2 linked regions of the Homo sapiens genome follow. The protein of the gene in region 1 interacts with the protein of each later gene in a pairwise test. Each region holds a gene or a part of one and is shown on either strand. Other genes may lie near its edges. The genes, in order: ELAVL3 and RNF32.

Evidence for each region.
Region 2: the proteins of ELAVL3 (region 1) and RNF32 interact in a two-hybrid assay, tested with the Homo sapiens proteins (one study listed by BioGRID and IntAct).

Annotation. Positions count from the first base shown.
Region 1 is NC_000019.10:11,450,773-11,457,277, reverse strand, and holds the end of ELAVL3 (ELAV-like protein 3), read left to right. Parts: intron 1-129; coding exon 130-168; intron 169-2,400; coding exon 2,401-2,752; 3' UTR 2,753-5,952; downstream 5,953-6,505. UniProt on the Homo sapiens protein: RNA-binding protein that binds to AU-rich element (ARE) sequences of target mRNAs, including VEGF mRNA. May also bind poly-A tracts via RRM 3. May be involved in neuronal differentiation and maintenance.
Region 2 is NC_000007.14:156,671,535-156,677,675, reverse strand, and holds the end of RNF32 (RING finger protein 32), read right to left. Parts: intron 1,981-6,141; coding exon 1,813-1,980; intron 1,382-1,812; coding exon of another isoform or gene 1,301-1,381; exon of another isoform or gene 1,258-1,300; coding exon 1,021-1,257; 3' UTR 546-1,020; downstream 1-545. UniProt on the Homo sapiens protein: May play a role in sperm formation.

The sequences.
Region 1 (6,505 bases):
GGAGCAGGCAGGCGGGGGCAGGGCTCTGCTGCAGGCCTGTTGGGTGGGGGTGGGGAGGGCAGGCCGACGGTGTCACAGCAGGGGGGCGTGACTGGAAGCCACCTCTGACCACCACCTCTGCCTCCACAGGCTGGACAATTTGCTCAACATGGCCTACGGCGTCAAGAGGTAACAGTGACCCCGCCCCACTGTCCCCACCCCTCACCATCCATGCCCCTGATGCACCCCTCCCCAGCTCACCCCCAGGGCTGCAGGCTTAGCCTTGTTTGCCTGGGTCTTGGAGTAGCATGGCCATTGAGAGATGTGACATCAAAGCCAGACGTGGTGGTTCTCGCCTGTGCTCCCAGTGTTTCGGGAGGCTGAGGGGCAAGGAGCACTTGAGGCCAGGAGTTCAAGATCAGCCTGGGCAACATAGTGAGATCCTTCTCTACAATTTTTTTTTAAGGATTAGCCTGATACGGTGGTGCATGCCTGTAGTTCAGGCTACTCAGGAGGCTGAGGCGGGAGGATCGCTTGAGCCTAGGAGTTGGAGGCTGCAGTGAACTATGATGGTGCCACTGCACTCCAGCCTGGGTGACAGAGCGAGACCTTATCTCCAAAAATTAAAAAATGTGGCTGGGCGCGGTGTCTCATGCCTGTAATCCCAGCTACTCAGGAGGCTGAAGCAGGAGAATCGCTTGAACATGGAAGGAGGAGGTTGCAGTGAGCTGAAATCGTGCCACTGCACTCCAGCCTGGGCAACAAGAGCGAAACTCCATCTCAAAAAAAAAAAAATAATTAAAAAATGTAAAAGAAGATCTCAGTCTGAGTCTAGTGGGGGAGGAGACAGAGAAATGAATGGTGATGAAAGCTGTGAAGTAGAAGGGGTAACAGAGGCCGGGCGCGGTGGCTCACGCCTGTAATCCCAGCACTTTGGGAAGCCGAGGCAGGCGGATCACGAGGTCAGGAGTCCAAGACCAGCCTGGCCAAGATGGTGAAACCCCATCTCTACTAAAAATACAAAAATTTAGCTGGGCACGGTGGCAGGCGCCTGTAATCCCAGCTACTCGGGAGGCTGAGGCAGAGAACTGCTTGAACCCAGGAGGCGGAGGTTGCAGTGAGCTGAGATCGTGCCACTGCACTCCAGCCTGGGCGACAGAGTGAGATTCCGTCTCAAAAAGAAAAAAAAAAAAGAAGGGGTGACGGAGACCCAGCAGCAGAGACCCCCCAGTCCCATCTGAGGCAACATCCACACAAAGGCAGAGTGGAAAGGGAGTTCCTAGCAGTGGGAAAAGCCTGTGCAAAGAGGGCCAGAAGGAGCGAGTAGTTTGTTCCTCGTGGTCAGGATTGAATGGTTCAGGCCCTTGGGTCCTCCCTTCCCAGCTGAGGGGTTTAATCCAAGGGCGGGATTGCCAGTGAGGAATGTGAGTGGAGCCAATTCTGTCCTTTCATTAATTCATTCAACAGACACCTCCCAAGTGCTTACTAGGTGTTGTTCAGGGGCTGGAACAAACTCTTGCAGGGAAGATGAAGTTGATGATAATAAATATATGATTTGAAAAGGAAAGCCGGGTGCAGTGGCTCACACCTGTAATTTCAGCACTTTGGAACTCCAAGGTGGTAGGATTGCTTGAGCCCAGGAGTTCGAGACCAGCCTGGCTAACGCAGCGAGACCCCACCTCTACAAAAATTTTTAAAAATTAGCGGGGCATGGCTGGGTGCGGTGGCTCATGCCTGTAATCCCAGCACTTTGGGAGGTCGAAGCGGGCGGATCACCTGAGGTCGGGAGTTCGAGACCAGCCTGATCAACATGGAGAAACCCCATCTCTATTAAAAATACAAAATTAGCTGGGCGTGGTGGCAGGTGCTACTCGGGAGGCTGAGGCAGGACAATCGCTTGAACCTAGGAGGCAGAGGTTGCAGTGAGCTGAGATCATCCCACTGCACTCCAGCCTGGGCAACAGAGCAAGACCCCGTCTCAGAAAAAAAAAAAAAAAAATTAGTGGGGCATAGTGGTGCACCTGTAGTCCCAGCTACTTGGGAAGCCAAGGCAGGAGGATTGCTTGAGCCTGAGAGTTCGAGACCAGCCTAAGCAACATAGTGAGACTGTGTCACCACAAATCATAAAAAAAATTAGCTGGGTGTGAGGGCGCCTGCCTACAGTCCCAGCTGCTCAGGAGGCTGAGGCGGGAGGTTTGCTTGAGCCCAGGAGGTCAAAGCTGCAGTGAGCCATGATTGCACCACTGCACTCCAGCCTGGGTGACAGAGCGAGACCGTGTCTCTAAAAAAAAAAATTGCATTGCAGGGGTCACACCATTCCAAGGTCATGGCACAGTCAGGGGTCATAAAGGTGTGAAGGGTCACAACGGGGTCAGAAGCATGCGGGGGGTCAGGGCAGAGCCCGCGTGACCCCCAAAGTAGTCCCCTGTCGCTCATCGCCAGGTTCTCGCCGATCGCCATCGATGGTATGAGCGGCCTGGCGGGCGTGGGCCTGTCGGGGGGCGCGGCGGGCGCCGGCTGGTGCATCTTCGTGTACAACCTGTCACCGGAGGCAGACGAGAGCGTGCTGTGGCAGCTGTTCGGGCCTTTTGGGGCAGTCACCAACGTCAAGGTCATCCGTGATTTCACCACCAACAAGTGCAAGGGTTTCGGCTTCGTGACCATGACCAACTATGACGAGGCGGCCATGGCCATCGCCAGCCTGAACGGCTATCGCCTGGGCGAGCGCGTGCTGCAGGTCTCCTTCAAGACCAGCAAACAGCACAAGGCGTGAGCCCACCCCGCCTGCCCTCCCACCCCCTCCCCGGGCAGCAGAGAGAGAGAGAGAGAAAGAGAGAGAGAGAGAGAGAAGGGGCCCAAGAGAGACAGCACAGGCAGCCCCACGGACGACGCGAGGGCCCCACGTCCCTGCGGAAGCCACAGGGTGAGCACTCTGGGGTGGGAGGGTCTGCAGGGAATTGGGGGGGTGCCCGGGGATCCCCCGCCCCATCCTCCTGCCCCCACCCCAGGCTGGGCTGTTCACTCTCTCGTCTTGGTTTGGTTCATGGTGAAGGTTTTTGTTTCTTTTTTCGGCTAAAAAGAATGCAGAGATGTGCCCCCACCCCCACCCTCGACCACCCCCGATGGGATGGCTTGGGGGGCTCCAGGGGGTGCCCTCCCAGACCCCCTTGCCCAGGCCTCCCCAGCACCTAGGTGGGGCCTGGGGTAGGAGGAACAGGTTTAAAAATCCCCAAAAAAGCGAACCGTGAGGAGGGGTGTGGGCACCCCCGGCCCAGTGCCCCCTGGTGGAATGCGGGGGAGCAGGCAGTGGGGCTGGAAGCAGAAACAAAATGAAAAAAAAAGGGGGGTGGGAGGGGAAGAAAAACTCTATTTTTGTAAAAAGGGAAAAAGACCTCGTGGAGAATTTTTACTGGGGATTCTTGAACTTGAAAAAAAAAAACACAAAAAAAGACAAAAAAAAAAAAAGAAAATATTTTGGCAGGTTATGTTTACCAACTGGGGCGGGGGTGGGGGGGGCCCAGGGAGCAGGGCTTAGGGGCTAGCAGCCCACGGGGCCACACAGAGAAACAACCACGCAGACAGTCACACCACGGGGACACACGGACAGACGCAGACGGACACAGCGACATGCCCCAGACACGTTAAGGGACTGGTTGGCCAAACTCAGACACGTGGACAGGGATAGACAGAAAGAGACAGAAGCTGGGGCTACGTCCATGTGGACACAGACCACAGATGTGGGCACACGAATCCATCCACCTGTCCACGTGCACACGTGAATGTAGCGATAGATATTTGGACATCAAATTTGGACACCAGGTCACGGAGAAACACAAACACCACCCAGGAACACGCAGACATATGCCCATAGCATCCCACAGGCCCAGGCAGGAGGTCCCACCCCAGACCCTGCCCCAGACGCTCCCTCACCCTCTCGGCCCCCTCGCCCTGGCCCCCAGGTTCTCTGCAGAGATCTCTCCTGGACCCCCAGCGGTCTCCTTGGCGCCCACGAACACAGGCGTGCACACGCAGCGCACATGCATTGAGACACACGATACCTCGTTCCACCTTGGCGTCACGGTGGGCTGGAGGCAGCCCCCCCCCCCACAACACTTGAGGCCAAAGGACACCCCTGTCCCCGGGGCTCAGCCTCCCCCTGGGCCGAGGCCTTGGCCCACACAGCTGAGGGAGAGGCCCAGCCCTGAGCCTCCCCCACCAGGACTGGGCCTCCCCGGCAGCAAGACCCCGGCACTCCCCGCCAGGCCCAGGGTGGGGTGGATGGGCCCAAAGGCCCAGCCCCACACTCCTTTCCCGTCCACTTGTCACCTACCTATCCCCTTTCGGTTTGTTGGGTTTTTCGTCTTTCCAGATTGCAGTGGACACAGCCCCCGATCTCGAGCCCCGGCCCCCGGCTTCTGTCTGGACATTGCATCGCCCTAGTTTTCTTTCTTTAAAAAAAAAAAATTCCAACAGAAGCCACAGGCCGGAGCCCCTGGGAGCCCTCGCACCGCTCCCCACCCCACTCAGCGGCCCCATCGGAACTGAGAATTGCAAAACCCCCGACTTTAGCTATAGTTAAGTTGCCTTCCCCCGGTGTCCCCACGTTTGGTGTCTGGCTATGGCGCCCCCATCTGACTGTCCAGCTCTCTCTCCCCCACCCCTCCCGGTGTTGTTATTAAACGTCTGTGGAGCTTCTGCTGCAAGGAACAAAAAAGAAAAAAATCAAAAAAGCGACAAAAAAACACAAACAGAAGAGGAAAAAAAAGCAACAAAAAAAGAAAACACACAGAAGAGATTTAAAAAAAAAAAAGGAAAAAAAAAAAAGACATAAACTGGCACCAGTTAACTTTCTTGTACTTTTTTGCTGAATTTAGCTTCTTGTAGTTTTAACTTATTGCTATGTTAACTATTTATTCTCCTCGTTGCCCTGTAAGGACATCCGTGTATATTTCTGTTACTTCATCCGGTTTGCAAGTTAAAGGAACGACAATGTTCTCTTTGTTTCTTTAAGTTTTGCCGAGACATGGTTATGCCTAATTTATTTATAAAAGGGGAAGTGGAATCATTAAAGTAATAATAATTATTAATAACAGTAATGGTAGCCGAGTGGCACGCGGGGGCGTGTGCTCTGCGGGACAGTCCCCACGGCCAGCGACGTCCAGGTCACCAATGGGATTCTTTTTGCTCTTGTCTTGAGAATTTTTTCAGTCCTATTTAGCTGGTGAAATCCCTAGCTTGTTCTTGATACACGAACCTATTTATTCTCGTGGTTTTAAGTCCTCCCTGCCCTCTCTCCTCTCCCCTGCAGCAGGGCAGGGACCCCTCTCCCCTGCTGTCTCTTGGGGCTCTCTCCCCTCCGCCCTCTGCATTCGGGAACACGCACGTCCGCGTGGGAAGCTTGCAGCAGGGCGTCCGAGCAATAAGGGCTGGGTTTGTCCCCCACCCTGGGGGGGGCCAGGCTCCAGAGAGGGGGCACCTCCCCACACACCCCCCCCCCACCGAGGCCTAGGCCCCTGCCACCCCCAAGACTGGGAGGGGACTTCTTTTTCTAAAACACAAAACTCAGCCCAGCCAGGCCCCCTCCCTGGAGGCCAGCCCCTCCCCGCAGGGGGCCAGGCCGGGGCTCCCAGGCGAGGGGGACTTGGGGCTTCCACGTCCCTGGGGGGCAGGGGCCAGGCCAGGGGGGAGGGGGCTCAGCCCCTCCACCCCTCCCTTCATCCTGTTATTTATTCGGAAGGTTTCAAATCACGACAGAGTCCATGTTGGAGGTGATAAAAAACTGTAAAAAAAAAAAAAAAAAAAAAGACAAAACAAAAGACAAAAAAAAAAAAAAAACCCAACAAGAACACTTCGCGTTGCGTTTAGACTATTTATTACCGGGATCACAGGCCTGGCCGCGGTAACAGACTTTTACATGGAATTGTTTAATTATTTGTACTTTTCATGCCAGAAAATAAAAGTTCAGAATCTTAAGGCCTTGGGTGATCTCTGCACCGCTGCGCGGGGAGCACGCAGGAGCAGCCTGTGTAGTAGCGCCCAGGCCCCCGTCCTTCTCTGGGCCTGGGTCTGTCTGCAGCAGGGGCTTTGGCCCCGGGAGGGAACCCTTGGCCTCCACAGAGCACAGATGAGACCCAGGGAAGGTGGGACACGGGCCCGGATGGATGCTCAAGACAGAAATGGTCCAGGGTCCATCCACCTGGTATCTTCAGGAGTGATCCCCAGATGGTGGGGGAGGCCCGGGTGGGATCTGCAGAAAGCTGCGTCCCCTGCGCTCAACCCCTGCCCACACCCCGGTCCACACCCCAGCAAAGCGAGGCAGACACAGACAAGTTTGGGTGGGGGATCACATTTATTGTATTGAGGTCACAGGTCAAGTCATTCACTAGTCCCCACTAGGAGGGGTGGCAGGGACAGGGCTGGGGGTGGTGGGGCGAGTCACCAAGGTGGGGGGCCCAGGGAGGGCAAGCTCCTTTACCCATCTTTGAAGGCTGTTGGGGCCTGGGAATGTGGACCAGCCCCGCCTGGG
Region 2 (6,141 bases), on another chromosome or scaffold:
TAAATAGAAATTTTGGCATTTCTTCTCACATTAGATGCTGGGTTATTCTGAGCCCATGCCATGTGCACACCCACTTGGCCTCTTCCTCTTAGGCCTACACCCTGCCCTTTCCTTGCCCCTTGTAGTTACTGTGGCTGGAGTGATGAGCGCCACTCCCAAGCATGGCCTGGAACAATGTCCTCCTGCCCCTCCACCAGCAGTGACAGGATTCACTGGGGACTCGGGGGCAAAGGAGACTGTGTCACAAGACAAAAGGAGCCAGGGTCACACATGGTGTACCCTCGCCCTGCCTCACCCATGGCTGACATGGGTTGGACACCTCAGAAATCATGTGTCTTCAGCGAGCCACTGAGAGTTGGGGCTTTATCTGTTACTCGGCTAGGGGTAACCTAACCGATGAGACTGTAACTGGTTACTGTAAATAACCAAGCTCCCAGTAATAGTAAACCAGTGACAAAAACAATTCTTATCCAAAAAGGTTCACTTTTTTTTAAAATGTGTGAACTAAAACAGTCTTTATTGCTCTAAGACATTAAAATTTGCACTTTTTTGATGTTGAATACCACTGAATATTTTATTTTTATATTTTATTACACAGAAATACAGCAATTATTACAAAACGAGTATTAGGAATGGCAAAGGCTTTAGGACAGACTATTAGCGGAAAACATTTGGAACTTAAGGAGTGTTTTACATTTGGAACTTACTTTAAGGAGTGTCGTTCAGACACTAGCTATATCTTAACCTCAATTTTTAGAAGTAAGCAAGCTCTCATTTTTTGCTATTCATATTTGAAGTGATTAAACTCATAAATTTGAAATTTACTTTTTAGAGACCAAAGATTAAAATTAGGTGGGATGTCAGCTTTTAAAATATACTAAGATTTCCTACAACTACCAATAGCTTATTTCCCTGGGAAACAGATTACATTGTAGTACTTAACCCAGAACTCATGCAGTTCATCCAAAATGATGGTAAACTTTTTTCCTCAGAATTACCTAACTTTCCTTGACTATGAATTCAACATTCAAGAATCTTCTTCTGGTAGCAGGAGCGGCAGAGAGGACAGGCATGGAAAGGAGGCCTGTCTCCCACGGAGAACTCCTCTAGTGCCAGCAGACACGCATGGTGGAACACATGTGAGCAGGACAGGAGGGCCATCTCTCTGGAACGCCTGCCTGCACCCACGCGCTGACCGCCAGCAGCGGAGAGAGGGGCCAGGCAGATGGAGCACTCGTGGGTCTCCCGGCGCAGAGCCTGCGGCACACAGGACGGGAAGAGGCCACGCGGGTTAGTTTCATCACAGCAGAAAGTTACTTAAACTGAAATGCGAACCATGTGCCCCGAGACATGGGTCTTCGAAACATGCGGAAGTTTCATTCTGTGTTAAAATCACATGCATTTTATTTATATATATACATATATATATACACACACATATACTCTGTTACTCCTGGGAACTGTGGAAAGGGTTAGTAACCCACCTGTGATAAGCAACATCCAACAGGAACTTCCAGAATTTCAAACTGAAGGGACCTTTGCCGTCACCCTAAAGCCCATGAGGAAAGTCCTACCACAGGTGCAGGGGCAGCTAGGGCAGCGGTTACCCCGGGACTGACACTCCTAGGCTTCCCAAAGTGAGTCCTCGACCTCCCCCGACATGCCACCCCCACAGCCTCCACGGCTGCACCCCGGGCCTGACACTCCTAGGCTCCCCAAAGTGAGTCCTCGACCTCCCCCCACATGCCACTCCCCACAGCCTCTGCAGCTGCAGCTGAGTCTGCTGGTTGCCAGGCTGCCAGCCAAACCTACCTGCACTTGGATTTTCTCCCATTCCTCTTCTGTGATCTCATGGCCACATTTTTCTTCCAACTGCTGAAGAACACTTCGATTTATGGCCAAGCACTGATCGATTTCTGCAAAGAGCTCTTCAATGTTGGTGTTGTATGAGCACAGGATGCGGTGGCTGATTTCTGTGAACTGAGGAGGAGGCGGGGGCGGGTAAGCTCACACCTGAGCTCGGTGGAGGTTGCAGGGAAGCGCTCTCGAGCCTGACCATCTATTTTGGTAACCTTCCTCGTCTCTGTCTTCGAATAATACTTTTTAGGGAAATAGATATATGTCTATTTTACTTAACTATAAATCCAGATAATCTGGACAGATGACCACAAGAACCCCTATCTGATGGAGTCCAGAACACACTACCCCAAAATACGGCACCTTGGCATACTGAATATTTTAAGGAAAAAACATTCCTTCCCAAAGGAATTTGAGAAATGACAGCTGCAGGAGGGACCGTCTGACCTCTCCCCACCCCTAAAGTGGGTCACAGGACCCTCCTGTGAGAGGCACCCTCGTCTCCAAAGACGGAGGGAGCCGGGAGGAGACAGCACACAGGCCTTGCCGTGGTTCCCACCGACCACCCTCAGCTCACCCCTTGTCCTGTCATGCTTCCCCACGACCTCTGTGTCCTCATCCAACCTAGCATAGAAAGCGCTCAGGCGTTACTGTCTCTTCGGGTCTCCGCTGCCCCTTCGGGTCGCCGCTGCCTCTTCGGGTCTGCACTATCTCTTCCGGTCTGCGCTGCCTTAGGAAGGCTTCCATACCACATGGGACTTACTAAGTAAATCCGTGTAATTTTCTCGTTAAGCTTAACTTACAGGGCTCCAGCTGAAGAATTTAGGAGGGTAGGGGAAAAGGGTATATTGTTTCCCTCCCCTGCTGTTTTCTTGGTTGTGAGCTTTGACCATTAGCAGGAACACATTTGAAATTAAAAGTTGAGAGAAAAGTTCGAATTTCGCAGGATCAGCTCTGTCCCATAGAAACATACTGTGAGCTACGTATGTAATTTTAAAATTTCTGGCAGTCACATTAAGTTTTTTAAAAGGTGAAATTAATTTTAATATTGTATCTGACCCAACAGATCCAAAATATTATCACTTCAACGTTTATTAATTGAATACAGTACTTTGTTTTTTTTGGTATTTTTGTTTGGTTTGGTGGAGACAGCATCTCGCTCTGTCACCCAAACTGGAGTGCTTGGGGCCATCAATGCTCACTCAGCCTCGGCCTCCCGGGCTCAAGCCATCCTACACTAGAAAGGTCTGAGTCATTACAGAGTGGCCACCAGTGTCATCTGAGGCACGGGTAGGTGGCTCATTCAGGGCCACACCAGCGGCTCCTTTTTAGTACATGTGAAGAGTGTAAAGCAAAGGAGAATAAGGTGTGTAAAAGGTTGTGCCAATGGTGACTGTCAGCCACACTTCCTGCCCTCTTGCTTGTCCTTTCAAGTACAGAGCTGTGGCTCACCCAGAGATGACATTTCCCATTCCCCCATGCCCAGGTGGGGCCACGTGAAGTAGTTCTTCCAGATGGACGTGGCTCATGTCTCTTCTGGGTGTTCTCCAGGCCCGGGGGGTGGCAGATAAAGGGCAGAGGGAGACAGTTCCCGAGCCCCACAGGCTGGCATGTTGCCTGCAAGCCAGGACACCTGAACTGTCCTATGAGACCGAAGCTCTGGCTTTCAGTCACTGAAATTCGGGGGGTTATTTGTCCAGCAGTGAGAAGTGCCGATTCAGCAGTTACATCTGCTTCATGGAATCCGGCTTGAAGCACAAAGAAGGATGAAATGAACAAGTCCCGTGGAGATCTCACACATTTAGATATGTGATGGGGAAAATGCATTTTGGATGGTCCATGACTGTCCAGGTTTCAAATATTCTAGTCTACTGGAGTCCTCACGTTCACTTTTTCTTTTTTTTTTTTTTTTATTAATGTGGAGCAACCTGGCAGAACGTAGTGTGTATTTAAATCACCAGACTTCTGAAGGTGCCTTTGAGGACATGGAGTTCTCTTCCAATTCTCTCCCTTCTGCAAAAAGATCGTGAGACAGCGCAGGGTCGAGTGCTGTGGAGACTATGAGCTGCCTTTCTCCCTGGGATGTTAGAAGAATGAGTATTGGCTTTAAGGATGAGAGGTCCTTTTGAGTAAAGAACATTCTGTGAACACAGCAGGCAGTCCACAAGGGTTGGGGTTTGAATGAAGGGGGTGGCTGAGGATCTTCCAGGCACCTGTGTTTTGGGATTAGCCGTACTTGGAAGCCTGGTGGAAGCTGCTTTTCTATTTATGAGTCAAATTCTCTTTCACTCTGAATGTAATTATAATTGCCAAGCAGCTGTATCTTAATTTAGGGTCTTGAATCGGTAACGTTTCCTAAGGCTTTAATTTTAATTTTCTTTATTCCTTGGCCTTTCAAATATCTAATAATATCTAAATAAATTATTGAAAGTAGAAGAGTTCTCTATACATTGTAAAAGGAAAAATTACTTGGAAATATACACAGTTACCTCCAATTGATGCTTTGTAATTCAGGTTTTCTGTAAATTGTTTTTAAGTGTGAGATACTTTCCACATATGCCTGAAAAGCAAGATCTTTTCTTCCTTCAAAATTATACCTCAGAAAAAGGGTCACATTCTAGTCCAGACCTTGCAAAGTGTTTCAACTTGTGAGGTATGTTCTGAGATTAGTTTTGGACATAAAAGTACTATTTGGAATGACTGATCAATTGAATGAAATGATCGATATGATCTGGGTGTTTATTCTCAAGGTGGGGCCCAGACCCCGCAGCCTCAGCTCCTGGGAATCTGTGAGAAAAGCAGAGCTTTTCAGGCTTTGCCCCGGGCCTGCCGAGGCCACAGTCCGCGGGGTGAGCCCTGCGATATGCTTTACAGCCCTCCAGGTGATTCTGAGGCCCATTCAGGTTTAAGAACCACGGTCATAGAAGTTACCGATCACATTTTTAAATATGCAAAGTTATTTAACACAGCATTAGTTATCATTCCTGGAGGTGTCACCTCCCAACTCCAAGCATGGGTATCGCTGTGCGTGCGCTTTCAGAAGCCACTTGAGAGAGGAACAGAGTAAGTGTGCGGGCCACATATAAATATGTATGTACATCTATATGCATTTATGTTACAGTGTCACCTGTGTGTGCATATATTCTATCATACGTGAGTGTATCGCTCTCTCTACAGGATGCCTGGAGCAATCCCAGCTGTCCTGATGTTACATAAATGAGTTACTTAGCTCAAGATAAACTTCCAAAGACAGCATCATTAGGACTTTTTAAAGTACATTTTCCTTCAAACACTTTAGATGGAAATAGAGCTCATATGCTCTGAACAACTGTGTTGGGTGACTCCTAAGTGGCCCTATTGATGACAAAGACCCTGAGGTCCAATACTGATGTCACCTATTGCCTCCTTCTGCCTCAGTCACTGTGGCATACAGGTCCTATCTCCTTTATTAGTCCTGGGGCCAGGACTGTTCTTAACGCTGGTAATAGCATCCAGGGTTTTTAAAGGGTTTTGCACCTGTCGTCGTCACACCCTGCCTTTAAACCCTCTCAAGAGCTCAGTACACGCACCGACCATAGTAGGCACTTGTTGAAAGAAACAGACTTGTCAGTTTTGCATATATACCAAATAAATCTCAGGGAGGGTGGCCCTTAACACTTAGTGCTCCAGTCTTAATGGTAACTGGTGTAATATAGCAAGAAAGCAAATAAATGCTTAGGATATTTTAATATACATAAGAATCACAAACTAATTCCACACTCAGGTGTTTGATTCCACAGAAGAAAACCTAGCATGGCAGACGCAAATATTCCTTTCCACAAGTTTTGATGAAATATTCCATTCCACAAGTTTTGATATGTACTTTTGCTATTCAACTGAAATTTCTTCTCATTTCCATTATAATTTTGTCTTCGATTAATACGTTATTTAGAACCGTTTATTTTCAAACGTGAGATAGTTCTATTTTTTTAAAAAAAATTTATTTCTAGCCTCAGCTGCACCGTGGTCAGGGAACATACTCTACACGACTTAAGTTTCTTCAAGTACGTGGACATAAAGATGGTGACATGAGATACTAGGACGACTGGGGAGGGACACGGGCTGAAAAACTAACTGTTGGGGACTGTGCTCATGAGCTGGGCGACAGGACCGCCTGTACCGCAAACATCGGCGTCCTGCAGTACACCCAGTGACAAACCTGCACAGGCACCCCCGAATCTAGAAGCTGAACTTATAAAACATAAATGTCTCGACCTATGATGACATCTGCATCATGGACAAGCG